Linked DNA regions of Homo sapiens. The protein of the gene in region 3 interacts with the protein of the main gene of each other region in a pairwise test. Each region holds a gene or a part of one and is shown on either strand. Other genes may lie near its edges.

Evidence for each region.
Region 1: the proteins of HSF2 (region 3) and MTUS2 interact in binary tests that used the Homo sapiens proteins (3 or more experiments, as listed by UniProt).
Region 2: the proteins of HSF2 (region 3) and YWHAG interact in binary tests that used the Homo sapiens proteins (3 or more experiments, as listed by UniProt).
Region 4: the proteins of HSF2 (region 3) and PICK1 interact in binary tests that used the Homo sapiens proteins (3 or more experiments, as listed by UniProt).

The regions. Positions count from the first base shown.
Region 1 is NC_000013.11:28,816,186-28,823,959, forward strand, and holds the start of MTUS2 (microtubule-associated tumor suppressor candidate 2), read left to right. Parts: upstream 1-4,153; 5' UTR 4,154-4,426; intron 4,427-7,774. UniProt on the Homo sapiens protein: Binds microtubules. Together with MAPRE1 may target the microtubule depolymerase KIF2C to the plus-end of microtubules. May regulate the dynamics of microtubules at their growing distal tip.
Region 2 is NC_000007.14:76,327,586-76,335,206, reverse strand, and holds part of YWHAG (14-3-3 protein gamma), read left to right. Parts: intron 1-4,973; coding exon 4,974-5,630; 3' UTR 5,631-7,621. UniProt on the Homo sapiens protein: Adapter protein implicated in the regulation of a large spectrum of both general and specialized signaling pathways. Binds to a large number of partners, usually by recognition of a phosphoserine or phosphothreonine motif.
Region 3 is NC_000006.12:122,394,080-122,402,651, reverse strand, and holds the start of HSF2 (heat shock factor protein 2), read right to left. Parts: upstream 3,001-8,572; 5' UTR 2,915-3,000; coding exon 2,822-2,914; intron 1-2,821. UniProt on the Homo sapiens protein: DNA-binding protein that specifically binds heat shock promoter elements (HSE) and activates transcription. In higher eukaryotes, HSF is unable to bind to the HSE unless the cells are heat shocked.
Region 4 is NC_000022.11:38,067,092-38,074,712, forward strand, and holds part of PICK1 (PRKCA-binding protein), read left to right. Parts: intron 1-612; coding exon 613-679; intron 680-980; exon of another isoform or gene 981-1,057; coding exon of another isoform or gene 1,058-1,316; intron 1,317-1,941; coding exon 1,942-2,031; intron 2,032-3,746; coding exon 3,747-3,800; intron 3,801-4,590; coding exon 4,591-4,653; intron 4,654-5,385; coding exon 5,386-5,519; intron 5,520-5,908; coding exon 5,909-6,001; intron 6,002-6,681; coding exon 6,682-6,732; intron 6,733-7,215; coding exon 7,216-7,360; intron 7,361-7,621. UniProt on the Homo sapiens protein: Probable adapter protein that bind to and organize the subcellular localization of a variety of membrane proteins containing some PDZ recognition sequence.

The DNA.
Region 1 (7,774 bases), on a different chromosome or scaffold from region 3:
ACACTATGATACTTGCTGATCATATATATATATATATATATATATATATATATATATATATTTAATTCAAGAGAACATTCTACTCTTCCTTTCACAGCTTTTTTTTTTTTTAATTTAATTTGGCTGGGCGCGGTGGTTCATGCCTGTAATCCCAGTACTTTGGGAGGCTGAGGCGGGCGGATCACTTGGGGTCAGGAGTTCGAGAACAGCCTTGCCAACATGGTGAAAACCCATCTTAACTAAAAATACAAAAATTAGCCTGGATATGGTGGCATGCACCTGTAATCCCAGCTACTCGGGAGGCGGAGGCAGGATAATAACTTGAACCTGGAGGTGGAGGTTGTGGCGAGCTGAGATTGTGCCACTGCACTCCAGCCTGGGTGACAGAGTGAAACACCATCTCAAAAAAAATTAATTTTATTTTAGATTCAGGGGGTACATGTGCCTGTTTGTTACATGAGCATACTGGAGATTGGGCTTCTAGTGTACCCATTACCCAAACAGTGAACACTGTACCCCATAGGTAATTTTTCAGCTCTCGCCCCCTGCCCACCCTCCCCTCTTTTGGTGACCCAGTGTCTATTATTTCCATCTTTATGTCCATGTGTACTCATTGTTTAGCTCCCACTTATAAGTGAGAATGTGTGGTACTTGGTTTTCTGTTTCTGAATTACTTCACTTAGGATAATGGCCTCCAGCTCCAGCCCATGTCACTGCAAGAGACATGATTTCATTCTTTTTGATGGCTGCATAATATTCCATGATGCATTAATATATGGACCACATCTTCTTTATCCAGTCAACTGTTCATTGACATTCAGGTTGGCTCCATGATTTTGCCATTGTTCTTTTCACAGTTTCTAAATACAGCATAACCAACTGTTAAAATAAGACTTATCTTGGAATGCTGCCAGGTGGGCCAATAGATAACTATGACAGTTTGGGACCTCTGAAAAGCAGATGTCAAGATAGGATTAGATGTGCCAAAATATTTTAAAGAAAACACCTGTGCAGGATAGTGCAGGAGGGAGAAGGAGCCTGGCATGCAGGTGAGGAGTGCCTTCTGACTGCAATACAGGTCTGACACTTGTGAATGGAGAGAGGGAAGGGAAGAAGATTGGGTAGGAAGAGCTCCAGACTGCAGCACATTCTGAGAAAGCCCTGGTAGGGTGGTAGGAATTCCAGAGCAAAGACTGCCCACTAGAGGCAGAAAGGGCATAGCTCTAGCGCTCTCACCATGTTCCGTTGTGAGCTGGAAACAGCTGGGGAATGTGTGACCTTGGTATGAGCTCTGTGGTGGATCCAAATGTGTGACAGCTGAAGGCTGTCAGTTGCTCAAGCTTCCAAGATCTCAGGGGATCACCTCCCTCCATGCCACCACACAGATAGGTATCCCCACACATAAATCCATATAAATGGAGGTATTGGACCATCTTTGTAGGATTTGCTAAGTTGGGGTTCTGCCACCTTCAGACCAAATTGAAGGAAAGGAGAGAGCAATCAAGGGAGAAGATGAGAACGACACGGTGCTGACAGGGAGAAGGAGGACCCACCCACTTCATGCAAAGAAAGGCATGCTTCCAAAGAACTACTTGGAGAGCCTGGCATGTGTCACCTGGAGTGTGGGGACATGCATGAACCCAGAGATGGCTGAGAAGCTTCAAGGAAAGAGGCCGGTCAGAGTTACCTGTGACCAGAGAAGAAGAAAAGAGAACTGCAGTGACAGTGGCCTGCACTTCTATAGCGTGATGGGCCAAATGCCAGTTGGTGTCCGTGGGTCAGCACGCACGTGGTGGAAGGTAGCTGGGACTGACTGCCAGGGCATGGTGCCTTGCAGAGGGCCTGAATGAGGCTGACCACCAGTGAAGCTGAGGCTGAAGTTGCAGGGTCAGAACCCCACCCTGCCCAACTTGAGAAACCAGTGTTTTTTTTTTTTTTGAAACGGATCTCGCTCTGTCGCCAGGCTGGAGTGCAGTGGAGCGATCTCCGTGAACTGCAACCTCCACCTCCCGGGTTCAAGCGATTCTCCTGCCTCAGCCTCCGAGTAGAGGAGCCTAGAGGCATGTGGCACCATGTCCAGCTAAACTTTTTGTATTTTTCATAGAGACGGGGTTTCACCACGTTGGCCAGGATGGTCTCGATCTCTTGACCTCGTGATTCATCCACCTCGGCCTCCCAAAGTGCTGAGATTATAGGCGTGAGCCACCGCATCCGGCTTCTTTTTTTGACAGAGGCTTGCTCTGTCGCCCAGTTGGAGTGCAGTGGCATGATCTCGGCTCATTGCAACTTCCACCTCCCAGGTTCAAGCAATTCTCCTGAGGAGATGGAATTGCAGGTGCACGCCACCACACCCAGCTAATTTTTGTATTTTTAGTAGAGACAGGGTTTCACCATGTTGGCCAGGCTGGTCTCGAACTCCTGACCTCAAGTAATCCACCGGCCTCAGCCTCCCAAAGTGCTGGGATTACAAGCGTGAGCCTCCGTGCCCGGCGGTGGAACCCGTCTTCACAGAGCTAGCTGGGGAGAACACAGAAGCAGGAAGCGAAGGTCGTTTTCCTCCTCCTTGCAGGCTTCTGAGCTTGGGTCAGGTTGGGGTCTGGTGGGTGGTGGGAGGCTAGTGGGGAAGGCTTGAATGGATTGCGATTAAAGTTTTGATTTGGATTGGGCTGGACTTTTTATTATCAGCAAATCTGACTGTTTATGAACACCTGAAAGTGACAGGAAAAGCTATGAAATTTGCCCCAGATTCTTCCAGGGGAGAAGGGAGAGCTTCTGGAATAATTTTTAAAGACAGTGGTCTGAAAAAAAAAAGTGCCATTTCATGATTTCCCTTCACCAAGTAGTCCAGTTGGTTAAAAAAAAAAATTAACTGTCATAAAGTATTGGTTAACACAGTGGTTTGGAAAGACATCCCCTAAAAACAAAAAACGCCAACCTAAATAGTGCAAAGACCAGCAACATCGTTTCATCTTTATAATGGTAAATGTTTATTCCATTGCTGTTTGAATCAGTCTGCAGAAGTCCTCTGGTTTCGCTTGCCTTTTCAAACCTCCAGGTGCACCGCGTGAGGGAGTCTGAGCATTTCAGGTAGGACTGGAAAAAGGTCTTTGAGAAATCATTAATTAATCTATTTACCTTACCATAAGAGCAGTCAAGGCTCGCTGGAACCCCTCGGACAGTGGGGAGGCACATTTGGTGCTCATTAAACATAGAAATAAGCTTGCTTCTAGAAAGAAACGCCTGCCTTTTGCGCAAATCTTTTCAGAGACTGGCTTTGGGCTCCTATGAATCAGGCACCCTAGCGTCCTCCAAAGTTCTTCCCGATGCTGAACCCCAATGCCTCCTGCTGCGCCTAATTCGAAGCGGCTCCCTCTTCTGTTCTGAGCGGAAAACAGCGGAACCCATTCCTGGAGGCCTGCCCTGGAACGGCCAACTCATTCTTACTCCTTTCTCCTGGGGTCCGATGCTAGGGCACCACGGTGACCAGCCGCGCAGCGGGCAGCGGCCCGCGCCGCGCCCACCGCCTGCGGAGGCTGGGTCTGGGTCTGGGTCTGGGGCTGGAGCTGGGGCTGGGGCTGAGGCGGGAGCTGGGGCGGGGGCGGGGGCTGGGGCTGGGGCTGGGGCTGGGGCTGGGGCTGGGGCTGGGGCGGGCAGGCGCGCGCGCAGGAGCGGGCGCAGGGGCCGTCGGCAGAGGGCGCTACGGCTCCCGGCTGCGGAGCTGCGACGCGGGGCGCGGGGCGCGGAGCGCGGGCCGGGAGGAGGCGCCTGGGTCTCGGCGAGTGCGTCTCCGGGCGGCCGGGAGGGGGTGCGCGCATCAGCTGCCCCGCGCCGCCTACCGCTCGGGCCCGCTCGCCGCCCGGCCACTGTCACCGCGGACGGCACCTCGCGGGCGAGGCGCGCCGGCTGCGTGGCGCGCTGCGAAGGTTGGGCTGGGCGGCCGCCGGCCCCGCGGCTTCTCTTTGTCCAGGCGAGGCGGCTGGAGGAGCAGCCGCGGCCGCGGCGGAGCCGGGAGCGCCTGGGCGTCGTGCGGGCGGCTCCGGTCCCCGGCTGCGCCCCGGCCCTCGAGCGGGGGCGGCGGCCTGGGCGGTGCCTGCGCCGAGGTGAGTGCGGGGGCGCGGAGCGGAGCGCAGCCGCGGCGCGGGCGTGGGCGGGCAGAGGTGATAGCGAGCGCCGGCGGCTCCAGGTGCGGGGGCGCCCCTCGCGCTCCACCTGCGCCGCCGCCGCCGGCTCTCAGGGCAAGTTTATCTCCCCCCTTCTGCGGAAACCCTTGACCGCTTAGCGGAGTACAGACCTGTCGGTAAATAGAAAACTCGAGCTGGAGAGGAGGAGGAAGCAGCGTGGCGGAACCCGGCCCGAGATGAGCGTCTCCGTGAGGGCAGTGGTGGCCTCTTGGACATTACATCTTTCTTGGCTCTTTTTGACCCAGGTGAGCGAATCCTCTGCTGCGCGGTCCGGTGGGGTCGGCTGGCTCTGCTGCCGCCCTCTGGACCCGCCGGAGACAGGTGAGCGGAGTTGGGGAGCGCGCAGCCGGGCTCGGGGCAGCGCCGGGCTGGTTCGGCTTCTCGTCTCCAGAGCGCTGATGCTTCCTGCCCACATCACCTGCTCTGGCTTAGGGACTGCAGCTCTTTTGGCACCTTCGCTTGCTGCCAGGTTCAACACCCACTGCTTTAGAGGCGTTGGTAGGTTAGTTAAGGCGAGTTCTCCCCTACCCACCCCCAGCTTTGGATAATTTGGTCTGAGTCTTCGTCTTAATTTAGTATGAGTGTGTTATTTCCTTCAAGCTTTATAATGGTAAAGCAGTGAAGCGGCTTGCTACATCCATTTTTTTTTTTCATTCTGTGCCTGTGCACAGAAGGAATTACAGGCACACAAGTGATGTTACTACCATTCTATTTTAAATACAAACACGGAAAGAAGTACTCTTGGCAGGATACCAAAGGCGCCTGTACTCTCTGTTATATAAATGCTTAAAAAAATTTGCTCATTGGTAAAGTTATGTGTGATTACCAGAGCACCTAAGAAGAGAGTGTCATGCTTTTAGTTTACTTGGAGATAAGCAGTGGTCTTAGCTTGAGGTACCCTTTTAAGATAATATAGGACCCTATATTAAAAAAGTCATTAGGTATAATTGTAAAGCATTAAAAAATTGGTTTTGTAAAGTCTATTAGGAATTGGTGAGAATTCTTTGACTACTTATTGATAAAAAGATCCTACATGTATACTTTCTAGTTTTCAAACTATTGAATGATTTTATTTTTATCTCTGATGGAAACTTAGTAATTGTGAGTTGCCAGTTATTAAAGATGTGTCTCTCTTTCCCTTCCCTTTCCCCAGGCCCCAAAACCAGTACTCACATTTATGGCTATTTTTTTCAGGTAAAAATACAAAAGTAGAAAACATCAGATATACTGATGGCTGGGAACAGCCCTTGTCCCTCCTCCACCCAGTATTCTGTTCTAATTGGTCTGGGCTGATACCTTGATACCTGTAATGTTAAAAAGCTTTCCTGGTGATTCTAACGTGTAGCCAGGGGTGAGACCCATTGTGGAGCATTGTATTGTCACTTTCTGTAGCCTATGGTGTTGCTACAGTGGTTTAAGGTAAGTCAAAAATACGTTGTTAGAAACATGGGAAGAAAAAAATGGTATTGGAAAGGGGACACATCAGAGAATTACAGCATGTAGACTTTTGTGTTTTGTCTAAATGCTCTTTCTTGATTTTCCTGCGAAGAGTAGTTGATGTTTATTAGGGACCCATAATTCCATGTAGAATACTTACGGGAATCTTAAGTGATATATTTCATTTGCAGAAGTACCAATGAAAGTTGAGTAGTAGTGGCAGGATATTCATTTATGTTTACACGGTAAAGTAAGTCATAGGAAAGATTATTTTCCATATCAAATTAAAAACTTTTACTATAAACTAGTAAATTAAGTGCAAAAAGTTTTTATTGTTTTTAAGGTCAGAAAGAAACCTGGCCTCTGAGTCAGTGTTTTCTGTCTCCCTTATGTAATCCCAAATATCCAAATCTAGGAGCAGATCTTATGGATGGTTTATGAAGGCTTATGTAAGAGCTATGACTGTGCTTTTGGTACTCCATTAAACTCCCTGTTTGGGCTATTACATAATTGACACGGAACTAGACTGTTAAAGCCAAAATCCAGGAGGATGCCGAAACCCACTCCGGCATACGCACTTTTATAATGAATTGCTGTTGCCAAATTGGAGGGAACAGCAGGGATGGTGGTTTGTGAAAGAGAGGTAAGAATAGCATCTGGGGGATTGATGTAATAGAAGACTGTTATGCTTAGCGATTTTCTAGAGATTTGAATGCTGTGGCAGAAACCTCTCTAGTCCTTTCTATCTCCAGCAGAGGCAGATCGACTGGGGAGCTAATGAACCTAAGCCTCAGGTCCCTCCGTCACAGAGGCTTCTTTGGAGCCCTCTGGGAGGGGCACTGGCAGTGTGTTCATGTGGTCATCCCTGAGTTTGTATTTGTACTTTTGGATTTTTTTTTTAAATAAGGAGAGTACTCTTTCTATATTCCCACCCCCCAATTATATAAACCCAAGGTTCCACAGACCCTGAATCTATCCCTGTCTTCAAACCTGTGTTCAAGTATTAACTTATAAAATTGCCTATTCTTAGTTTAATTTTTGTCATCTGAAAAGATGAAAAAAATCTGTACAATATCATAGTTGACTTGCTGAGAAAATGCAAACTGCTATAACCTAGGGCTGTATAGAGCCACTGAAATCAGGCACATACCTGGAGAACTAGCTCTTTGCCTCGTGATCGCACACACATGGGATTGTTTTGGATCAGTGTGTGAGCTGGAGGTGGAGAAGAGTGGAAACGGGTTGGGGAAGGGAGGAAAGTGGGTTAAAGCTCTTCCTCCTCTCAGAGGCAGGATGCCAAGGGGAAAGGAAGGAAAACTATTGAAAGATGCTTCATTAATAAAATGTTAATAGGAACAGATAGCATCAGCTCCATAGGAGATCCTTCTGTAAGCTCAGGATTGGTCTCTAATACGAATTTTCAACAGTAAGCAAACAAACTCATTCCTCGAAAATATCCTACAGGAAACAAATGCAGGTTTGGAAGGACTAGATGAGTATCTGCTTGTTCCCATTAGCAGTTTTTATGAGCAAGTGGGAGGCTTATAATATCTACCACACACATGTTTGAAACGAGTTGTTGAAAAGAGTCAAGGAGTTTCCCCTTTTCTCTGAAATGATTTCTACTTCCTATGTGAATTTGGATGCCTTTAGATCTTATCATCTTGACCCTTCCCACCAACGGGTATACCTTGTCTATCAATTACCCATCCATCAGTCATCTATCTACCATCCACCCACCCATCCACAGAGACTCTCTTTTTGACCAAACTTTAGTCAGGCTCCCCTGAGCCCTCTTCTCAACTGGGCCTCAACCTTGGCCCGTAAGAACTGCAGCTTTCAACACAAACAATTTTGTCTGTGCTCCCACCCTCCAACGGATTTGAAAACACTGTAGCATGGTGTATTAGCCTGTTCTCACCTTGCTGATAAAGACATACCCAAGACTGGGTAATATATAAAGGAAAGAGGTTTAATTGACTCATATAGTTCAGCATGGCTGGGGAGGCCTCAGGAAACATAGAATCACGGTGGAAGGGGAAGCAAACACGTCCTTCTTCACATGGCAGCAGGAGAGAAAAATGAGCAAAAGGGGGAAAAACACCGTATAAAACCAGCAGATTTCATGAGAACTTACTGTCGCGAGAACAACATGA
Region 2 (7,621 bases), on a different chromosome or scaffold from region 3:
ACACGCCTGTAATCCCAGGTACTCGGGAGGCTGAGGCAGGAGAATCGCTTGAACCCAGGAGGCAGAGGTTGCAGTGAGCCGGGATTGTGCCACTGCACTCCAGCCTGGTGACAGAGTGGGACTCCATCTCAAAAAAAATAAATAAAATAAAAATAAGAAATTTGAACTTGAGCTTGTAGTAGTAGAGAAGGCAGAAACTTTGTTTTTAAGCAGAACATACAACTCTGGGGAATAAAAACTGAAACTTTCTACATTTTCCAACAGCCATGACAGTAAATTTTGGGGACCATGTTTACAAGTGTTGCATTCGTAGAAACAATTTATTAACCAGGGTGTGATGGGAGGCTGAGGTGGGAGGATCACCTGAGCCTGAGAAGTTGAGGCTGCAGTGAGCTGTGATCACGCCATTTCTCTCCAGCCTGGGCAACAGAGTGAGACCCCATTTCTTTTCTTTTCTTTCTTTCTTTCTTTTTTTTTTTAAAGAAGAAGAAGGTTAGGCAGAATGGCTCATGTTTGTAATCCCAGAACTTTAGGAGGCCAAGGCTGGAGGATCACTTGTGCTCAGGAGTTCGAAACCAGCCTGGACAACATAGGGTGACCCTGGTCCCTACAAAAAATACAAAAATTAGGGGGCGTGGTGGTAGATGCCTGTAGTCCCAGCTTCTCTGGAGGCTGAGGCAGAGGAGTTTGTGGCGTGGCTGCAGTGAGCTGTGATTGCACCACTGTACTCCAGCCAGGGCAACAGAGTGAGACCCTGTCTCTGTTTAAACAACAACAACAAATTTAATGACTGTTTTGAAAAATGTTACCTCCCTTCCCAAATGATACAAGATCCCGTATCTTCCCACATTGAATAGTCATTCTGTCATTCTGTCTTGATTAAATCATTTTAGACACTATTAGAATAACTTGTTCTTTTAAGAGGTTATCTGTTGACCTTTAAAACTAATATGGTGGGGATCTCTTATTTTAATTTAAAAATAACAGATTCTTATGCAAGTAATTATGATCTAAAGGATAAAGGATTTTTAAAAATTTTGATTTAAGGTGTTCAGAACAACTTTTCTTTAGACTTTTTAGAGCTGAAGGGTTTCCCCTCTAACTTAGTTTTTCACTGGCAGGGAACATCTGGGCGTGTTCCAAATGTGGTCGAGCTACTGTATCCAAAGGTGATCCTGGCATTTCATAATCTCCTTGTTCCAATGTGTCTGGGGACAGCTAGGCAGACTTTACATAAGTACAGATTGCCTCTCTGGGCACTGCTGGGAGACTTCATTTGTGGCAGGAGGAGTGCCCCCAGGACTGGTGAGATAATTTGAGCTTTAAATAGCTCCTGGCCCTTGAAATAAGGACAACATGATTTAGGGGAAAGGCCAGAACTTGATCTTTGTGGCCTTCGGCACGCTGGCCTCTCCTTGCACTGGAGGCAGTCATGAGGGCTGCACCGCGGGGCGGTTTGTCTTCAGCATTCGCACACTCAGTAAAGTATGCCAGAGATGGGTGGCAGCAGCGCCCAAGGGCTCAGCTCCTTCCAAAGCCAAGTCTGGGCAGTTTTTTTTCAGGCTGTATGGAACTAGGGTTTATGGAAAGGAAGCGATGTGAGGCAGCTAAGGCAGTTTCCGCTTAATATAGAGAAGAGGATGAAACGGAGAAGAGACACTCGATACAGGAAGATGAGCTGGGAGATCGTTAGGAAATGTAGACATCCCCTGTGGTGAGAACTAAAATGAAGGAAAATTATTCAGGGTATTCTTAAAAGTAGTTCCTCATGTTTCTGTAGCATTTTACTTTTTCAAGAAGACTTTGCTGGGCACAATGGCTGTCACCTGTAATCCCAGCACTCTGAGCGGCCAAGGTGGGAGGATCACTTGAACTAAGGGTTCAAGACCAGCCTGGGCAACATAGTGAGACCTTGTCTCTACTAAAAATTTTTAAATGGCTGGATGCAGTGGCTCACACCTGTAATCCTAACACTTTGGGAGGCTAAGGTGGGTGGATCACTTGAGGCCAGGAGTTCAAGGCCAGCCTGGGCAACATGGCAAGACCTTGTCTCTACAGAAAAATACAAAAATTAGCTGGGTGTGGTGGCATGTGCCTTAGTCCCAGCCACTCAGGAGGCTAAGGTAGGATTGCTTGAAGCCCTGGGAGGCTGAGGTTGCAGTGAGCCAAGATAGTGCCACTGCACTTCCAGCGGATTGATATAGTGAGACCCCATCTCTAAATAAAGAAATAAATAAATCAGCCATAGACTGAGGCGGGTGGATCACTTGAGGCCAGGAGTTTGAGACCATCCTGGCCAACATGGCAAAACGCTGTCTCTACTAAAAATACAAAAACTAGCCAGGCATGGTGGCACACGCCTGTAATCCCAGCTACTCGGGAGGCTGAGGCAGGAGAATCGCTTGAACTTGGGGGGAGGTTGCAGTGAGCCGACATCATGCCATTGCACTCCAGCCTGGGCAACAGAGTGAGACCAGGTCTTTTTGAAACTCTGTCTCCAAAAAAAAAAAAAAAAGAAATCAGCCATGCATGGTGGTGCACACCTGTAGTCCCAGGTACTCTGGAGATTGAGGTGGGAGGATTGCTTGAGCCCAGTAGTTTGAGGCTGCAGTGAGGTGTGATCATGCCTCTGCACTTCAGCTTGGGAAACAGAGTAAGACCATGTCTCAAAAAGAACAAAAAAAGACTTTCTTATTTGTCTGATATACCTGTATATTACCTTATGAAAGAAGCAGAAATCCCCATTTTGCAGATAAGAAAACCAAAGCCCAGAGAAATGAAGCGGCTTGTCCCCAAGATTGCTTAGCGAATGATGGAGCTGGGAAAAGCCCAATCTTCCGTTATTTGTGGACACATCAGAATTCAGCATGAGTGACAGCGGTCTGCTGGATGACAGATCGTCAGTGCAGAATGAGACACGAGGTGCCTGTGTTTATTCATGCAGGAGGAGTGTTTGCAGAAGTGCCGGGAACAAGAGGTGGTGGAGCAAAGCATCTCTTTCCTGGTTTCCTTCTGCTCTGAACTCAAGTAGTACCCACCCCCTATTCTTCCCCTCTTTTGAGTCTGTTTCACTGAGGGCACGGCTGGTAGGAGTAACGTTGTCCAGCATTAAAACAGAGCATCAGTAATGTCTAGGAAAATGTTAACTTTAACAACACCACTAATCAGTTTAGAGAATATTTGAGCGTGTAGCACTTGCTGATCATTCATTCAGAAAATGAATTGCCTGCCATAAACTAATAAGCATGATTTGGTTTATGTTTTGATTTAATTATCTCTGAGTAGATGCTGCTTGAAGTAATGACTGTAATCACTTTTGCCAAGCATACCCCCCGTTTATAATTTAAGAAAAAAAATTTTTTTTTTTTTGAGATGGGGCCTTGTTATGTTGGCCAGGCTGGTCTTGAACTCCTGGCCTCAAGCAGTCCTCCCCACCTGGTGTCTCAAAGCACTGGGATTACAGGCATGGGCCAACATACTGAACATAATGATTCAAACATAGAAAAAAAAGTCTCCTGGTAGTTCAGTTCCCCCATGCCCCAGGAGTTTAGTACAGGGGTGTCCAGTCTTTTGGCTTCCCTGGGCCACATTCCCTTGGGCCACACATAAAATACACTAACACTAACAATAGTTGATGAGCTAAAAAAAAAAAAAAAATCGCAAAAAGAATTCTCAGTGTTTTAATAGAGTTTACGAATTTGTGTTGGGCTGCATTCAAAGCCATCCTGGGCTACATGCAGCCTGTGGGCCACAGGTTGGATAAGCTTGGTTTAGTAGATCTTTTTGGATTCTAGGTCCCTACCTGTCGTCTCTGTATGTAATATAATGTTATACAGATGCTGCAGTTGATCAACACGGAACAATGGGGACTCAAGGGACAGGGAGTAACCACTTTTCTTCTCTCCTCTCCTCTCCTCTCCCCATCCCCAGCCAGTTGGCATGTGCTGGTAGTCCCAGCTCCTCGGTAGGCAGAGGTGGGAGAATCATCTGAGCCTGGGGAGGTTGAGGCTGCAGTGATCTGTGATCCTGCTGCTGCACTCCAGGCTGGGCAATAGAATGAGACCCTGTGTCAAATATAATAATAATAATAATGTATTTCATATGGTTGTCAAGTAATGTAATAGTATATGACTCTGATACTATAGAAACCAGGTAAATAAATTTAGTATTATTGGCTGATATTAATAAGCAGTTATTTGTAGTCATAAAAATATACAACATTGGTTTGAGATGCCACTTTAGTCTTCTGAAAGTGATTAGCCTTGGGGGTGATGAGGGCGGGAGCCTTGAGAAATGGCCATCTTGGGAGAAGCATTGATTCCTGTTGCCCAGCTAGAGGCGCTGTGCTCGCCTCGTTCTTTTGTATTGCTGGTTGTAAAGTTGTATTCAGTCAGACACTCCCACTGCCACAAATAACATGTTCCCTGGGTTGCTAAAGTATCACAGCGATCAGACTCAATCCTATGCCCCTTATTTGGACTCCCTGAGGTTTAGAATTCACATGGTGTTGGCATATGAGCAGAAAGGCCTCCATGTTTCTCAGAAGTCAGCTTGAAGTTGACTCAGTATTTTCTTATCCAGAAGAGATGGGACTGAAGTTTAGTAGACAGGGCAGGATTAGGAGGAATTTGTCAGTCCGTTTTCCTAAAAAACCACTGAGTTAGACCATCTGTACTCATAGTCTCTCATCTAAGGCCTAGACTTGACAGTGTTTTGTGGAACACACGTGATAAGCCTGTGTCCTTTTCTGGGGAGGAAGCCAGGGTTCAGACACCGTTGATCCATTGATCCAGCCGCACTTTTCCCTCCCTTGTGTGTGCTCCACCTCCAGCCCCCTTCCCCCAGCCCACACAAAGTAATTTCCTTCTGTTCATCATGTTACTCAACAGAGCTCTGTTCTAGTGTCTCAAAGATACAGTTAACCCAGTGGACACCATCTGTACCATAACAACTCTGTTCTTTCCTCCTGGCAGGTGACAGAGCTGAATGAGCCACTGTCGAATGAGGAACGAAACCTTCTGTCTGTGGCCTACAAGAACGTTGTGGGGGCACGCCGCTCTTCCTGGAGGGTCATCAGTAGCATTGAGCAGAAGACATCTGCAGACGGCAATGAGAAGAAGATTGAGATGGTCCGTGCGTACCGGGAGAAGATAGAGAAGGAGTTGGAGGCTGTGTGCCAGGATGTGCTGAGCCTGCTGGATAACTACCTGATCAAGAATTGCAGCGAGACCCAGTACGAGAGCAAAGTGTTCTACCTGAAGATGAAAGGGGACTACTACCGCTACCTGGCTGAAGTGGCCACCGGAGAGAAAAGGGCGACGGTGGTGGAGTCCTCCGAGAAGGCCTACAGCGAAGCCCACGAGATCAGCAAAGAGCACATGCAGCCCACCCACCCCATCCGATTAGGCCTGGCTCTTAACTACTCCGTCTTCTACTATGAGATCCAGAACGCCCCAGAGCAAGCGTGCCACTTGGCCAAGACCGCGTTCGACGACGCCATCGCCGAGCTTGACACCCTCAACGAGGACTCCTACAAGGACTCCACGCTCATCATGCAGCTCCTCCGCGACAACCTCACGCTCTGGACGAGCGACCAGCAGGACGACGATGGCGGCGAAGGCAACAATTAAGGCCCCAGGGGAACTGGCAGCGCACGCGGATGCTACTACTGCAGTCTTTATTTTTTTCCCATGAGTTGGGGGTCGGGTGGGGGAGGGAAAGGGAGGGATGACCTTCCCAGGGAGAAACCCACGACCTGTCCTGTCTTTGATCGCCTCTTTGACATTTTTGCCAAAATACCACTAGTGGAAAGTCAGGCTAGCTGTGCTGGTATTGGAATAGCAGCCTCACACTGGCGTCTGGACTGTTCTGTAGATTCATGCAAGTGGAGCTGTCTGTCTCTAATTTAACTTATTGCTAGATAATAGGGTTTTCAGATGAAAAGAAAACTTAAAGAGGAATGGCCCTCATTCAGTAAGTTCTGTGGTTCCAGTAAGGATTTTTATGTACATACGCTCTCGTCTCTCGTTTTGGGTACTTTCTATCTCATCTGTCTCGGCTCTGCATGTTTTCCAGGGTGTAGCCTACAGACATGGAACAGTGTAAATCCCAGACTGACAGACTTAGAACCTGAGGTCTCATTCATCCTTATGGTTTAGGCCTTGCCAGTTTTCCGAAGTCTCTGATTAGTTGACAGTATTAACACTAAATTGCAGTTTACAGTATTTCTACATTACAGCCATATGTAACATCAAGCCATCGATTGTGTACTTTTCCTTTGCTAGTTGTTTGGGCTTTAACATCCTTATTCAGCCTTATCCAGGTTGGTTTTGCTGTTGATCGGTCTCCTAGGCTAAATGAGAATGAAAGCGACTTCAGGTCAGGTGGCTGTGGGATTTTTTTTTTTTGGTCCTTCTTTCCTCTTAACGTAAATCCACCACCAAAATTATTAATCCTCTTGAGAGAAACGTGAAACGCCACAAAAATAGAGAAAATTCAGGTCTGTATGTCATGGATCGTGTTGGTATTTTCAGAGAACATCCCGCTTCTGAAGCTGCTGCAGCTCCCTCCTCAGGGATCACACTGCCGTCACCCACTCTGCACTGGGGCGTTTCCTACTGCGCCTCGTGCTGGCGGACGCAGCTGGGTGCAGAAGCTGTGGGGTCGGAGAGGCGTTTGGAGAAGGTCTGTGGTGCAGTGTGTGAAAATTCAGGTGCTAGAAGCCTACTGGTAGAAAAACCCAAAAGGAAGAGCTATATCCTTAACCATTCTGTCCAATTTCGGGAGCCTTGTCAGTGTGTCAGTTTTTCCTCCCCGAAGACACTCCTTCCCCAAGTAATTGTAGGAAGATAAAAAAACTGTTACCAGATAACAAACACTGAACTCCTATTTGACCAGAACTTTTTCCTCTCGAGATAGTTTTTTCTTTTTAATGAAAAAAGCATAGGAATTGGAGATTGGCTTGTCTCACGCAGCCAGTGCACATTTGGAATTGACGGAAACAACGTTGCTATTTCCACCCATTTGTTTTCGGCAGCCTTAAGGCCCTCATTCTCATTTCGGGTGAATCTGTCTATCTGTGAACGTGGCCCGCATGTGCATTCTTTTTTTTATATATATAAAGTCAGTGACGAGGAACTCCCGAGACGTGTAATGACACCACACTTGTTTTCTTTGTTTCTTTGTTTTATTTAGGCAAGAAGAGGTGTGAGTAATTGAGGAAAAACTGACAGATGCTTTTGCTAATACCAAAATTGAGCTTACAATTAGGAACTGAGTATGTGTAACAGGATACAGGTGACAGTGAAGATAGAAGAACCACGATGACCACAGACTCAATGTGCTCTGTAACATCGCACAGTTTACCCAGCATGACTTTCCTTAGGAGGCCCCCTCCTCACGCTAGAGTAAAAGTCCCAGTTAAGTGAAGCCTACCAGAAGAACTAGTAGAAGAAGCTTTGCCGCTTTTGTGCCTCTCACAGGCGCCTAAAGTCATTGCCATGGGAGGAAGACGATTTGGGGGGGGAGGGGGGGGGGGGCAGGGTAGGTGGGGCTTTCCCTAATTTATCTTCATGTCCAGTGAGCAGTGTTGCGTTTTTCCTTGTAGCATTTGGAAATGATT
Region 3 (8,572 bases):
GAGCCCAGGAGGCAGAGGCTGCAGTGAGCCGAGATCGTGCCACCGTACTCCAGGGTGACAGAGTGATACTCTACCACAAAAAAAAAAAACGAATATGATATAGTGTGATATAGTCTCTGCCACTTGGAAATTCAAAGCCTGTTGAGGACTATTATATCATCATTCCTACCACTCTCATTACATTTTCTAGGGTTTCATTTATTCATCAAAGAAAAGAGAAAGATGAAAGTAACTTATTTTGGTTTTTCCACCTAACATTATTGTTAAAGTTTTACTTTTCAGTATTAGCACTGCTTTTAGAAAAATCCATGGAGAGCACAAATGAGACAGCTGCCTAAGCAACTAGGCTTAGCCCTAGACAACATTTATTCAGAATTGTCCATTGACTTGTGGCAAGCAACATTTTGGTATAAAACTAAATATGATGTCAACTTGCATTAAGTCTAGTTCTATTGGTGGAAGACTGATCTGGGAGCTCAGAAATCTATTAGGGTAGGGGTGTCCAATCTTTTGGTTTTCCTGGGCCACACTGGAAGAAGAATTGTCTTGGGCCACACATAAAATACACTAACACTAATGATAGCTGATGAGCTTAAAAGCAAAATTGCAAAAATATCTCATGTTTCTTTAAGAAACTTTATGAATTTGTGCTGGGCCGCATTCAAACCCATCCTTGGCCACATGTGAGCCTCGGGTTGGACAAGCTTATGTTAGGGTCTTATCTCCAATCTTGGCGAGCTGTATAATTATGGATAAATAATCTCACCTGTCCAAGCCTCAAATCCTCATCTATACAATGATAAGGCTAACCTAGATGATCTCTAAGAGTCATTTCAAATATAATTTTATCTTCATCATTCCTACCACTCCATTACATTTTCGAGGGATCTCATTTATTCATCAAACAATTATTAAACACCTAGTGTGTCTCTGGCACAGTGATCTCACTGAGCTTACATTTTGATTGTCCCACTGGCATATTAGAAAATTGGTTAACACATAAGCTTAAAGTTAATAATGGGATTAAAAAATGGTTAAGTGGCTTGTTTATTTGGCTTAGAACTCATAGAATGATGCATTTACGGATCAGTACGAAACTCTCCACATTTGACAGTACTCAGAAAATAAGAATGTTATTAAAACACTGTTGCTAATCAGAATTTAATAGGCCTACCACTGACATGATACTCTGATTAAAAGCAACTGCCAATATATATAGCCCCTATTTCTGGCCCATAAAAGACAAAAAGGTATGATAAAGTCAGCTTTCGTGGGGAGAGAATCTCAGTCCAATCTCTAACACGAATACGTGTCTGAGTAACAGTCTGTACTGATCCTTCTTGTCAACTTTTAATCCTTCTAACTGATGAAAAGCATGAGACATGTGTTTATTTTAAGTACATGCTAGTGGCTGGCTTTCTTATTTTCACCTAGCTTTGTACAATTGTACAGAATTCATTAAATGCTTAATAGAAACACTCACGCCCCCCTACTCAACTCCAAGCAGGGAGTGGGGCTAAAAGGATAACTCAGTTGCTCATAAAGAACACACAAAAATTAAATCCTAGAAGGAAGTCGGAAAAAAGAACAAATAATAACACAAGGCAAACTATGGTATTACAGAAGTCAAAACTTCAGGGTCTTAATATGGTGCTCACTCCCTGTTAAGACAAAAGTAAATAAAACTAAGAGTTCCTATAATAGGAGAACAGGAAAGAAAGGAGGACGGGAGATAACATTTACTCAGCACTTAACAGGTGCCAGGCACTATGCAGGTAGTTTTCACTTATTCTTCTCAAGAACTACACATATGAAAATATGCCTCAATAGGTGATCATCTACAATAAGAGTTAACCACTTTCCTTCATAAAAATGATTCCAACAGCCTAGGAGTGTATTCTAATGCACATGCACTGTGGATGTAAATAATCATTCTGCCTAAAATCTTGTATTTGGGACTGATATAGGTCTTGGGTCACCTAGGCAACCCATCCATCTTATGAAAGATTTAACTTAGGCCAGACAAGATAAAGGGCTGGACTAAGGTCATGCTTGTTTAGAAGCAGAGTTGAGATCAAACCAATAATCAACACATCGATATGCCCCTCTGCTGGTAACTGTTCAGCGAAATTTAGTAACTACTAAGTTACCACCTATTAGTACTTTATTAAAACAATCCTAATAATCCCATTATACAAATAGCACAGAATCTCAAAAGAATAATTTGTTAATTTCTATATATTTTTAAAACCAACTGATAAGCAGTAACCTGCGTTTGAACGTATGTCTATTGCCCTGACTGCTCTCCACATAAAGATGCCAGATGCAAAGCAATGTTGGGGGAACTGGGGGTGATCGGTCGCTGAGGTAAAGATCGCCTCCTATAAAGCCCCACGTTGATGATCCTGGCCCTGGGCTCCCTGTCCCCTCCGCGATTTGTAACCCCTGAGCCGGGCGGGAGGACGGAGGATGAGTGTGCAGTAAAGAGGCTCCCGCGCCCTCGGCTCGCCGATTCCCCTCGCGACGCCGGGCCGGTTCCGAACGCGGACCGGACCGTTAAGGGGCTGCCTGGGCCGCTACGCCCCGCGCGGGCCGCCCCTCCCCCACCGCGGCCTGAGGAGAGCGGCGCTGCCGGCCGGGCCCCCGCGGCTCCCCGAGCGAACAATACAGGGGGTCCCCCGCGAGGCTGAACGCCAAGGCCCCGCACCGCGGGCCTCGCAGACAGCGTCGAGCCGCAAGGCCGCGAGAGACCACCCCGCAGGAGAGCGAGTGAGGAGGCGGTTATTCAGGGGGTTCAGAGGCCGCCGTGGCCTGACCGTACCTGGCTCCAGGTGATGAACTCGTTAGTGTGGGTTTCCTCCACAAGCGTCCACAGCTTGCTGAGGAAAGCCGGCACGTTCGAACTCTGCTTCATTGTTAACGCGGCGCAGGGATTCCAAATTCTACACCCGAACGCGGTGGTAGCGGCGGCGGCAGCTACGGCAGCAGCTCCCCGAGAACGCCCACAACGCAGGCGCAGCAGATCTTGGTCCCCGCCCCCCCAACCCCGCCAGGCGCGCGGCAAGGCCGAGAGGCCGGGCGGCCGCACGTGACGGACAAGTCTCCGCGCTCCGCCTGTGCGCGCAGTGGTTCCGCGCCTGTCCCGTCCCTGGCCAATCCCAGGAGCCGACTGCACGACAGAGAAAAGCGATTGGCTGCTGCTGACATGAAGGGGGTGGGAGCAGAAGGGGGTGGGAGCAGAAGGGGGCGCTGCCTCCTCATTTGCCTTTTATACAGAAGCCTTGATGGTAGCAGACTTAGGCTTGGGAGACCGTGTTTGGATGTTTCACGTGGAAACAGCTTATGGTTTCTGGGCTGTGGCTGGGAGGCTACAGAAACCCTTCAGGGCCTTTGAGTCATAAGTTTGGCAGGCAAAGTGTGGTTTGCACCAGTTTAGAGAAAGGATCCATTTGCATAAGGAAAAAACCAGCTCTCAAGCATGATGTGCTAGGCCCCAAATTGAAATTGTCTTAAAAATAATGAAACTTGTTCTTACATTTTCATTGGGAGAAAAAGCCCTCTTTAAAATATGTTTATCAAAAAGAGCAGTTTAAATAACTCACTCTCGATTACTTAAAACTGTAAACCAGGAACTGCAATTGATATATCATGTGCTGTTTTTAATCCAGTCATCAAGTGCCTACTCTGTACCCAGAATAAAAAGAAATAGACTCATTTGTACTATTTTAGTTAATTAAAATAGTTTTTCCTGCGTATACTTTACAGATATAGTCTTTTTTGCCTAAGAGATTGGTATAGTGGAAAAAACAATGGAAAAGGAGTCAGTAGATCTCAGTTTAGATAAAGCCTCTTGGACATTTTTCTGTATATTAAAATACACTGGTTCTGTCATTTAGAACAATTCCTTAGCCACCAGTGCCAGTTTTTTCCATTTCTTGACTGGGAATAAGATCTATCTTTTTACCCACTAAGAGTGTCTTTAATACTATAATGGCTGTGCAAATGCTTTGAAAATATGAAGTCTACAAAATTCGACTTTTTTTTTTTACAAAAGTCAGCATGTGAAGGCAAAAACTTACAAACAAGTCAGAGATAACATACAAAACTTCAACATAGGATTGGTTTACTTCTTGGGTGAATGTAAAATAGTACATTAAATATATATCTATCATTTAATGGAAGATATATGTATATCTCTTCCAATGAGCAAGTATTTAGTGAATGCTGCCTTTGTGCTCAGCACTGGGATGTTGGCTGAAGCAAAATCAGATATATGGAGGCATGCATGTGATAGAGGAAGTAATATTTGATGAGCCCTTATATATGCCAAGGGCTTTACATATATTATTGAATCCTCACAACAACCCAATGAACTAGGTTTTATTATCCCATTTTCCCAGAGAAGATTCTGAGACTCAAAAGTTGATTAATTTCTTCAGTCACAGCAAGTAAATGGGAGAGTATTTACACCCAAGCTTTATTGAGCTCAAAAGTATGTGCCCTTTCCATTGTACAATGATGACACTGTTTCAAAGCTCAAGATGCTTATATTCAAACTCAAGAAACAATATGACCACAGTGATCAGCACTCAATATATACAAAAAGAGCTAAATGTTTTGTATAAAATAAGTACTAGATAAGTTTAAAAAGACAGATTAGTAGGTTAAGGTGGTAAGGAAGGATTTCATGGCAGATAGGGACCTTAAGTTGGGTCTTGAGGTACAAATATATTTGAATAGCTAAAAGGAAGACAACAGAATGAGCAAAAACCAGGAAGCTAATGATCATGTCTGTCTATGGAGGGCAACAGCTCAGGAGGTAAGAATGGCAGTGTCTAAGGAGGAAATGTGGCCTACTTTCATGGCATTATATTATTTTCTTCTAAAAAAAGAAGGTGTGATTAGATAGAAGCAGAAACTTGTCTTTGGACATTCAAAGGCTGGGCATTCATAGGGCTGGGCTTAGTGGGGTGCCATACTTAGTTTAATGCTCTGTTCTCATCCTCTTGAAATTCTCAGTTTTTGAACAAGGGACTGTACATTTTCATTTTGCAATGGATCTTGCAAATTGTGTAGCTGATTCTGTTTCCAATGTATGGCATCTTATAGACCGTAAGTTTGAAACAAATGGTTCTCAAACTTAAGCATGCGTCTGAATCACTTGGAGAGGGAAGCCTTCCAGTAAGCAAATGAGCAATATCACTTATCAGGTAGTATTTGTAATACTTATAAGGGCAGTGACAAGGATAAGTTATTAACCAGATAAGAAAACCTTGGCACCAGAAAACTTAGATGATGTATCCAAAATCATCTAGTTAAGGTTGGAATTGAAACCAGGTCTTTCGTAGTCTGAAACATGCTTTTTAAATTTACACCAATGTGTCTCAAACTTTAGCGCAGAATCACCTGGACAGCTTCTTAAAGAACAAATTGCTGCTTTTGCTTCCATGGCTCTCAGTAAGTCTGGGGTACAGGTTAAGAATTTTTATTTTTAACAAGTCCCAGATGACGCAGATGCTACTGGCCCTGGGACCGCATTTTGAGAATTGCTGTTATAGAGGAAAAATTAGTAAACTGAGCTTCCCTTACTACTAAGATGTACAGATTTATTGTTATGCTTTACTTCTGTCTGTTTTTTTTTTTTTTTTTTTTTTGACAGAGACTTACTCTGTCATCCAGGCTGGCAGGCTGGAGTGCAGTGGTGTGATCTTGGCTCACTGCAAACTCTGCCTCCCGGGTTCAAGCAATTCTGCTTCAGCCTCCTGAGTAGCTGGGATTACAGGTCTGCACCACGAAACCTCACTAATTTTTGTATTCTTAGAAGAGATGGGGTTTCACGATGTTGGCCAGGCTGGTCTTGAACTCCTGAGCTCAAGTGATCTGCCACCTTGGCCTCCCAAAGTAATAAGATTACAGGTGTGAGCAACTGCACCTGGCCACCCTTCATCTCTTAATAAAATCCAGATGTTCCAGGAATAACTTAAACGACTATGTTTTGTTTTTCTATGAACTTATAATCGTTAATATTTATTATAATTAGTACATTTTCTGAAAAACTAAGTATTGAATGCAGACTTTTTTTGGGGAAAAGGAAATTATAACTTGGCTTGTTTGCACTTATTTATAAAACTGAGAGGGGAAGAAAACAAAATCAAGCTTTATCTCACAATTATTTGCCACCTATAATATCCCTAAAATATCAGAAGAAACAGATTTGCGCCAGTGTCGACAATTTTGACATGTTTATAACACAAGAAGATAAAAATGTCACTTTCTTAAAGGAGTTGCCTCCTGTTAACTCCAGTTTAAAAAGCTGGATTATTTTCATGGTTCATTTGCAGCCTAGAATGTAAGACTTAGATTTAGAATAACATTCAAAAATATGAATGATCCAGACCTTTGTCTAGGAAATAGAAAAGCATATTATGGAGCAATTTGATGCTTCAAATCATCAGACGATGCCATAAATTCTATCCAATCGATTTTGCAAAACTAATTGGAATCAACGGTGCAACCAGTATTAGCTTTTAAAGATTTTTTTTTCAAGGATAGGATGATTAAATCCAAAGGTGAACTGCATAGAGGTTTCCACCTATATTGCTATCTGGACAAAGTGTTGATTTTCTTCAATTTTGGAATGACTTAGGGGACCTTAGGCAAATCACCTAACATTTTCTAGTCCTCGTTCCTTATATATAAGATGTGAGTGAAAAATATCTGCTATGCTCACTTCACAGGGTGGTTTTGAAGATCAAAGAAATTGTCTCTTCCTCCAGTCCACTTTCACAATCTTTATGGATCTCTTTCTAAAACACAAATCTGAAAAGGTCACTTCCTGACTTAAAACTATTCAGTGACTTCCCATAATTTCCAGAATAAATTCAAACCCCTTAAGGGGCATAAAAGGCCTTCTCTGATCTGATGCCGCCTACCATTTCAGTTATTGTCTACCATTGTTTACAACGCCTTTCCCTTAGCCACACCTAATTGCTTGTAGTTACCTTACTGGTCATATTCTTTTATACCTCTATGTATTTCCATAGGCTGTTGTCTCTGCCTGCAGAGCCCTTCTTCACCATTTTCCCCTAAATTCTTCTTCAACCTTCCAGGTCAAGTACAATCCCGTACAAACATAAGTTCTTTTGTGAAATCTTCCTTGGTAACATTTATTATAGCACTTACTACATCATATTATAATTATTTATTTACATGTATTTTTCATTCTAGACTATGAAACTGCTTCAACATAAATACTATGTCATATGTACATTCACTTATTTACAATGACATTCACAATGCATGATATATGTTAAAATATCAATAAATATTTGTTGAATTAATAAATGAATACATGAACAGGTAAGTGCTAATCATCTGTTTATTCTTGCATGACCCCCAAATCTGGGTTAGTTGTTCCTCCCATGTGCTCCTATAGCTCTGGAACTTGACCTTCATAGTTTTTACCACACTATTGCTGCTCATTTACTTCTCAACAACCCTTACTAGACTAGCAGATTGTGCTTGCATTGTTCACTCTTGTATCCTGAGCACTCAACACAGTGCTAATAATAACGTAGGAACTGCTCAATAAATATTTGTTGAATTAATAATTTTAGCTTTTGAAATCCTTTGGATAAAATGTGCTCTACCTAATAATAAGGAAACCCCTTACAATTTATTCTCAGTCAGTAGAAACCTTTTTGTTTACAAGAGAAGAAAATGAAGAGAAGAGCTTAAGGATAGCTCAACTGAGAAGCATGCGAATGAGGAGCTGTTAGTAACTGAACAAATATTAGAATCCTGGAAATGCCAGATGTTAACAGAATGCTATAGAGGCCCAGGTTTGAGGTCACTTATATCTTCAAAACAAATGACAGTGGCAAAATGCTTAAGGACTCTTGAATAGGCTTTTGAGTAAGTGAAGAGCTAGAAGACTGTGAAAGTTAATTTTTAAAATTTTTCAAGAAGTTTTCTTCTTCTAAGGCTACAACCTGGGTGCAAAAGACACTAGCCAGAGGAGCTTTTTACATGGGAAATGTGTTAGTACTGCTTGTACCAGACTCGGGCTGGAACTGCTCTACATTAAAACTCCAATCTATGCCAGATTTGCTAGAATCCAATCAGTCATCCAACTAGGGTGACAAACTAGTTCAGGTTAGCACAATACATTTCCAGTTTTAATACTGAAAGTCCTATGTCCCAGGAAATCCCTCAGCCCCAGGCAAACCAGATTGTTTGATCACCCTAACTCAGCCTCTTCCAGTTATTTATGTTGGACAGGAAGCAGAGGCTCTTTAAGCAAAGCAAAATATTGTATAGCGACAATGTAGATACGGGATCTGGAAACTCTAATGCAGCTTTGGCCTTTCTGGAAGCAGTGCGGAGGCTCTCTTTCACAGGCACTCCAACAGCTAGCTGATAAATAGAAGGAATTGATGTACCCCTGCAACTCAAGGTCCCCGTGAAGGCTCAGACACACACAGAGAGATGTTGATAAGAAAGAAAATTCAAGGCTAAAAACCGTCAAGGACTGGAAACATTAGAAAAATGGAGTGGAATAGAGAAATGGCCT
Region 4 (7,621 bases), on a different chromosome or scaffold from region 3:
TGTGGTTTGCGTGGGGAGGGAAGAAGGAGAGCCTGACCTGGCCGAAGCACAAGACATCAGAGACCGCCAGGCTGTGGGCCCGGTGCCGGCCCTGTCCCCACTGATTCCCCAGGGCTTGGATGTAGAGTAGGAAGGGAGGGGCCTGGGATCAGACAGGGTCACAAGGTGGGGCCATGTCACAGCGCTCAGCCTGGCCCTTACTGGGGCTTAGGATTCTTTTTTTTTTTTTTTTTTTTGAGACAGAATCTCATTCTGTCATCCAGGCTGGAGTGCAATGGTGTGATCTCAGCTCACTGCAACCTCCGCCTCCCAGGTTCAAGTGATTCTTTGCCTCAGCCTCCTGAGCAGCTGGGATTACAGGCACGCGCCACTACGCCCAGCTAATTTTTGTATTTTTAATAGAGATGGGGTTTTGCCATGTTGCCCAAGCTGGTCTCAAACTCCTGACCTCAAGTGATCTGCCTGCCTCAGCCTCCCAAATTGTTGGGATTACAGGTGTGAGCCACCGCACCCGGCCTTGGGCTCAGGAGTCTCAGTCCAGAACAGTCTTGGCTGGGAAGGGGCTCAGGGTGTGGAGCCTCGCTCACTAGTCTGTGTGTGCTGCTCTTCCAGGGGGAGGTGACCATCCACTACAACAAGCTGCAGGCGGACCCCAAGCAGGGCATGTCCCTGGACATTGGTAAGCTGGTCAGAGCAGTTACGGGTGTCCAGCAGCCTCCCTGGATGGGCCCTGGCCCAAAGGAGAAGTGCCACAGCCAGCCCTGCCCTCCCCTTTATGACAGGAGAATCCAGAGTTACATGGCTGTGGGCTCTGACCTCTGACCAAGCAAATCTGAAAGGCCTGGGAGGCCTCCCGGTGCTCTCCCTGCATCTGTTCTTGTACTCTGTCCCTGGTTTCTCACTCCCCCGCGTTTCACCCCTACCTCCCTGCTTCTGCCATCTCCTCTGGGGACTTGCTACCCTAGGGTTGTCCTTTGCAGGCCAGCGCCTCGGCTTCCATGGCCCAGGGCCTCACTCTTCATAAAGGGAGAGCAGCCTAACCCTGGCCTGGCGCCTCATGCCCTCTAGCACAGCGCACTCCTCCCTGGCCTCTCCTGCCATCAGCTCCCAGGGGGACTCTGGATCTGAACTGGACCTCAGGCATTGGGCAGAGGGTCTGCGCCCTGGGACAAGTTCCCTCCTGTTAGAGGGGCTGAGCCTCGGTTCTGTAGAAACTTTAAGACTCAAGAGCTGGACAGCAGCTTCGAGTCCTCTGGACCGGCCGCTTCACATTATGGATCAAAGCCTGAGACCCAGAGAGGGCGCTGCAGCCCCTGGTGAGCGCACACCTAGGTCTCAGCTCTGGAGCCCAGCAATCCCCTTCATACACCCTAGGGCCAGAGGCCAAGGGGCTAAGGGCAGGCTGGATCTATCTGGGAGCTCCCTCCGAAACCCTCTGGTTCCAACACAGGACTAAGTCCCCTTCCTAGGACTAAGCTGGTCAGATGCAGTAACTGAGTCTGGGGTCCGAGCTTCATGGTCATTGATGGTGCCCATTACTTTCACATAACCAGCCCAGGGGCCCCTCTTCTCCCCCTCCCCTTTATGTGACACCCTAGGTCCTGATGTGACACAGAGGAGGGGAAGAGGCCTCCTTGGCTTCCATTAGCCTGTGCTGAGCCCGGGCAGCACTGGGCTCTCAGCAACCAGCAGCTGATGTTGCGTAGCAGGCCCTGGGCGAAGCGCTTCATGTTTAACTGCCCAGGCTGCCAGCACCTCTGTGAAGCAGAGGGAATAGGGCAGGGGCCTAGGACCTCCCCACTGGACATTCCCCACTTCACAGCCACCCCCAGCAGCCCTTCTGCCCCCTGTGGGGTGCTCCCTGTGCATGGAGGTAAGGCTGGGGGCAGGGATGGCCTCTGGGCAGCCACAGACTCACCAGGTCCTTTGTCCCCCGCTCAGTGTTGAAGAAAGTCAAGCACCGGCTGGTGGAGAACATGAGTTCAGGGACCGCAGATGCTCTGGGCCTGAGCCGGGCCATCCTGTGCAATGGTGAGTCCCTTCCCACCCAGCTGGGGCCCCGGGGACTCAAGCCCAGGCTGAGAAGAGTGGGGGGCACCATGGCTGCCCACCAAGCTGCTGTGGGTCCCGCGGGTCTGACCCTGGCCTCTGCCCGTGGAACTGAGAAGTCACCATCTCTGTACCCCCAGAGGCCTCTCCAGCTCCCGGAGGGTCCACAGCTGTCAGCTGGGCTGTCTTAGCCAGTGCCCCTCAGGTCACAGATGGGAAAATAGACTTAGTGTGGGGAGGTGCCTCTGCCCCTGCCCTCAGCCCCTTACCCCTCACCCCAGCACTCTCGCGGCCCACCTCCTGCCTCCTTTGTCCAGGAGGTGGTGCTGCTGCCCTTGCCTCTGCAGGTCCTCCCTTCGTGGTGGCTGCGCAGGCGAGGGGGGAGGCGTGTACATGCACATTTACACACGCATGCACACATGCGCACACACTTTCCCTCCCTGGGGTGGCCAGCGAAACACTCAGTCCCCCTCCTACCGTCGCCAGTCCGAGTTTAAAAATAGCAGCAGCTCTGCAGTGTGCCTGTGGGGTAGATATAAATACTTCTAGAAATTGTAGGCTCAGCTGGGCACACTGGGCTTTATTGGCTAAGGAAGTGGGGGTGGGGACTGAGCTTGTTCCAAATGGTGTACAAAAGTGGCGGCTGCTATTTTCAGCCTCCTGGTGCCGTGCCTATAAATCCCTGTTACTGTAGTTACCAGCCGTTGAGATGAAATTAGAACTGGTTGTTGTGTTTTTCCCCCCAAACCTTGCAATTTCCCTGGCCTTAAATAGGGTTTCTAAAATTGAAGCTGTCATGATGTCCCATGACCCAGCTAAAAACAACAACACGATGCTTACATGGCTCCTTTCCTGCCGCTGGCCAGGTGCTAAGGCTCTGGGGAACCCAGGCCTGGAGGCCACCGGGTGGCCAAAGCCTCCCCAAGACCTCTGAATTGCTCCCTTCCTTCCCCGACAGCCTGTCGCACTGCCACCTCCCTGCCCAGAGAGGCCTGAACACAGCCTCCGCTCCTCCCCTCTTCTGCTAAAAAACCCTGACCCAGGTCAACACAGGAGGCTGGGGAGCAGAGAGCACCTGACTGCCCCACCTCTCCCCTGCAGCCCTCACCATCACACTGCTGTCCATCGCCCGGCCACTGGGCTGGCTTCTCTGCTGGGCTTTCAGCCTTGAGAGCAAGACTTGGCTCAAAGTGAGCCTGACATGGTGGCTGGCACACAGTGGGTGCTCAAGAAACACTAAGCCAATGACTGATCACCAAGGCCTCTTCCCAGTGTGAGCTCTCTCAGCCTTCCTGAATTTCCCCCTCCCTCCCCAAGTTGCGTTTTCCCTTCTGAGCCATCTGTGTGCTTGGGAGGCAGAGACCATGTCCTTCCTGCGCTAGAGGCCTGGCTGCTCCATCTCCATTCCTATGGCCCCTGCCAGCCTTCCTCCCCAGCTGTCAGCAGGCTTTGTGTTAGAAGTGTGGGAGCTTTGCCTGCTAGGCACGGACCCTCCGCTGGCCATGAGGAGGGCCTAGTCATTTACAAAACACCTTTGAACCCAGCTGACCCGAGCTGCCAAATCCCCCTCCCTGGGACCCCTGATCTTTCCCTTCCTGGTTCTCCTCTGGGGTTGCCTCTCCCCTCCCCAGCATGGCCCTGGGCCTCCTGTGGCTTGCTGAGCCCACTGACCTCCCCTCTTCTTTGAATCCCGACAGATGGGCTTGTCAAGAGGCTAGAGGAGCTGGAGCGGACCGCTGAGCTATACAAAGGTGGGTGGGGGGTGGCCTCGTCCTGGCACTAGCTCTACCCCAGGGAGCATGCTCTCAGCAGAGTGGCAACAGGGGTGCTGGCACTAGGAATGCCAGCCTACAAAATACTAGGACCATGGGCATTAAGAGTTCTTAAGAATATATACTTCTTCTGAATTTAAAAATAACTCAGGGGCCTGGTGCAGTGGCTCACGCCTGTAATCCCAGCACTTTGGGAGGCTGAGGTGGGCGGATCACTTAAGGTCAGGAGTTTGAGACCAGCCCGGCCAACATGGTGAAACGCCATCTCTACTGAAAATACAAAAATTAGCCAGGCATGATGGTGTGTGCCTATAATCAGTACTCGAGAGGCTGAGGCATGAGAATCGCTTGAACCAGGGAGGCAGAGGTTGCAGTGAGCCAAGATCACACCACCGCACTCTAGTCTGGGCAATAGAGCAAGACCCTATCTCAAAAAAAACAAAACCTGATACTCATAAAAATTCAGAGAATAGCACTTGTAAACATAGCGAGAGTCCCCCGGAATCCCACACTGTCCCAGGGCTAAAGCCCACAGCAGGCTGTGTACCCCTGCATCTTACAAAATGCTGGCGCCCCTGTCTGATGGGGCTCCTCACGGGTTGGGTCGGACTGAGCTTTTACCCCTGGGCTGTGGTTGGGCGGTGGGGAAAGGCCATGTATCAGGGCCTAGCAGAGGCCTTGGGTGGCATGGGCAATTGGAGGCCTTGCCCTGGGCCAGTGTGGTCCCCGCCATGCGTCCCCATTCCGCATCACTCGGTCTCTCCCACAGGGATGACGGAACACACCAAGAACCTCCTACGGGCCTTTTATGAGCTGTCGCAGACTCACCGGGGTAATGGCATCCCCCAAAGCTGTGGTGTGACCGTGGGCAATCCCTGGGGCCTCTCACTCCCATGCTGAGGTGGGTCAGACCCACAGCGCCTGACCTCAGGCTCCCTCTGGGCTGGGCCTGGTCCCAGGTGCTGGGATTTGCGATGGGCCTGCGGGGAACATCTAGATCAGCTGGTCTCTTAAGGGCCGCAACGATGAACAGGCCCCACCCTGTCTCCTCACACTGCCACTGGCAGTACACAAGGCCCTTGCTTATTTATATTTCTGACAACCTGTAACTCTGGGCAGGCCGACTGCAGCTGACCCCAGCTACTGCAGAAAATGAAGCCCAGACAAAGGAGAGGGCCACACTGCTCCCAAGTGGTGGAGCTGTTGTTCCAATCCAGGTGTCTAGACTCGGACCAGTGTTCTGCCTCAGGCGGCGCCACCTCCACAAACCTTGACCCAGTCTTCTCTCACTGGTCCCTCTGGGGAATGAGGGCCAACTCCCTTGGTGTGTACACTCAGGACTCTAGGGGGCACAGACCAGCTCTTGGAGGTGTCAATCCAGTTTCCTCCAGGTGTAGACTCAGCTCCTTCAGGGGGTTTAGACCAGCTCTCTTGGAGGTGTAGCCCCTGTGCAGACATTGGCTTCCAGCCTGCCAGGCCCCCTGCCCTGCTTCTCCCCAACAAACCCCTGGCTTCTCTTAGGGGGCCAAGTAGGGGCAGCCTTCAAGGCAAACTTGTCCTGCAGCCTTTGGGGACGTGTTCTCCGTGATCGGGGTGCGGGAGCCCCAGCCAGCTGCGAGCGAGGCTTTTGTGAAGTTCGCCGATGCCCACCGCAGCATCGAGAAGTTCGGCATTCGGCTTCTGAAAACCATCAAGCCGGTAGGTCCTATTGAGCATGTGTGTGTCTGGCGTGTGAGGGTGGGGAGGGGAGAGTGTGGCATGCAGAGAAGGTCGTATGCTGGAGTCCTGTGCCTGGGTACAGCCTCTGGCTCAGTCACCCACACAGTGGACTGTGGGTGAGTCACTGTGCCCCCTTGGGCCTTGCCATTGACCTCTGGGCTGGCTTCTGACCCTGGCTCGCCACTGAGTCACAGCTTGCCCTAGGCCTGGCACTAGTCTTCTCATCCTTGAGAGGGACAAGGCATCAGGGAGCACCATCTGGCTCTGATAGTCGAGTCCACCAACAAGGGTGACGCATCAGTGCCATTCATTGTCACCCTGGCACACCCCTGCCGTGACAGCCTCAGCATCCACCCACCCTCTTCCAGATGCTGACGGATCTGAACACGTACCTCAACAAAGCCATCCCGGACACTCGCCTCACCATCAAGAAGTACCTGGACGTGAAGTTTGAGTACCTGGTGAGTAGTCCAGGTGCCCAGGCTGCTAGGGCAAGCGCCCACCCTGGAGATCTGCCCCACTTCAGTCAGCCATGCTGCGGCCAGCGAGGCCAGCCAGAGCTGACAGCATGTCTGCTCCAGGTGTGGGCCCAGAGGCCCAGGGAGGTGCAGCCAAAGCCCTGCTGCGCCTGCACAAAGAAGCATCTGAGAGCCTGGGGCGGGCATGGCTCTCGCTGTGTGCACTCTGACCCCTTGGGATTTGTTGCCTTTAAACAATGGGTTAGACTAGGTGAGTGAGCATAAAATGGGTGTCAGTGAACGTTCGTGAGTTTTACATTTAATTATTCTACAGTCAAAGGAATTGAGAGAAAATGCTCTATTAAGCAAGCCAAGGTTCCTTTGCTGCAGGACTTATCAGAGCCTTTGCTAGGCTGATGTGCAGTGTGAATTTTCAAGGGTCTTCCTAAGCTCCTTTAACGACAGACCCCTTTTTCCCCAGAGCATCTCTTGGGCCTTGAGTTTGGTCAACTCGGCCGCCTAAGCCTCAGGCCCTGTCATCCCTCAGCACCTGCCGCTGCCCGCTCTGGGACTCCCTGAACACCTGCGCCAGCCTCTCCTGCTGCGTGTGGGTGATGGGGGTGGAGCTGGGGACCTGGGGTGGGGGTAGTAGCCACTCTGACAGCCTCACCTGTCCCACACAGTCGTACTGCCTGAAGGTGAAGGAGATGGATGACGAGGAATACAGCTGCATTGTGAGTGTTGGAGGGGGTGGGGGGCTTGTACTTCCCCCCACCTGGTCTGCCAGGGATAGCAGGTGGCTCAGGCCAACCCGGGAGAGACCGGGGGGACTTGGCTGGACTCTCGTTCCTGGAGATTTAGGGCCATCTTCCCAGTCCCGCTCGCTGGGCCTCGGGGTGCTGGGCACCCGGCCGGGAACCACTCCCTCAGTCTGGGGGACTCTTGGAGGGAAATCGGATTTTCTTCACTCCTATGAGGCGCTTTTAAGTGTTTGATTTTTCTGCTGTCGGGATCCATTTCGTGGCCAGTGTTCATTGAATGTGGCAGAGGTTTGGGTTTGGTTTTTTCCTCTCTTCAAAGCTATCACTGAGTGCTTCTGAGAAACACTGAAGTCTCAGAAATGAGGTCTCAGGAATGAAGAACAGCCGTGGCTTTGAAAGCACAGTGCGGTGCGAGGCCGTCCCTGAGCAGGCACTCCTGTCCCACCCCCGCCCCAGGCCCTAGGCGAGCCCCTTTACCGGGTGAGCACCGGCAACTATGAGTACCGCCTGATCCTGCGCTGCCGCCAGGAGGCGCGCGCCCGCTTCTCCCAGATGCGCAAGGATGTGCTGGAGAAGATGGAGCTGCTGGACCAGAAGCACGGTGAGCGCCGCCCTCCTCCCCGTCCGCTCTCCATTTCAGAGGTGGGAAAACTGAGGCCCAGAGGGGTACTCTCAGGGCCAGGCCACGGCCCAGATGTAAAGCCCCTCCAGGAGCCCAGCCATCTGCCCAGAGCCTGGCCTGGGTGGAGCTGGCCTGTGCGCGTGGGCTCCGTGGGCTGCCATCCATGATCCATTTACCCTGCAGCCTCCTGCGTTCCCTGAACTGGGAGCGGGGAGGCCCCGGGCTGGGCGGCCCCTGCCT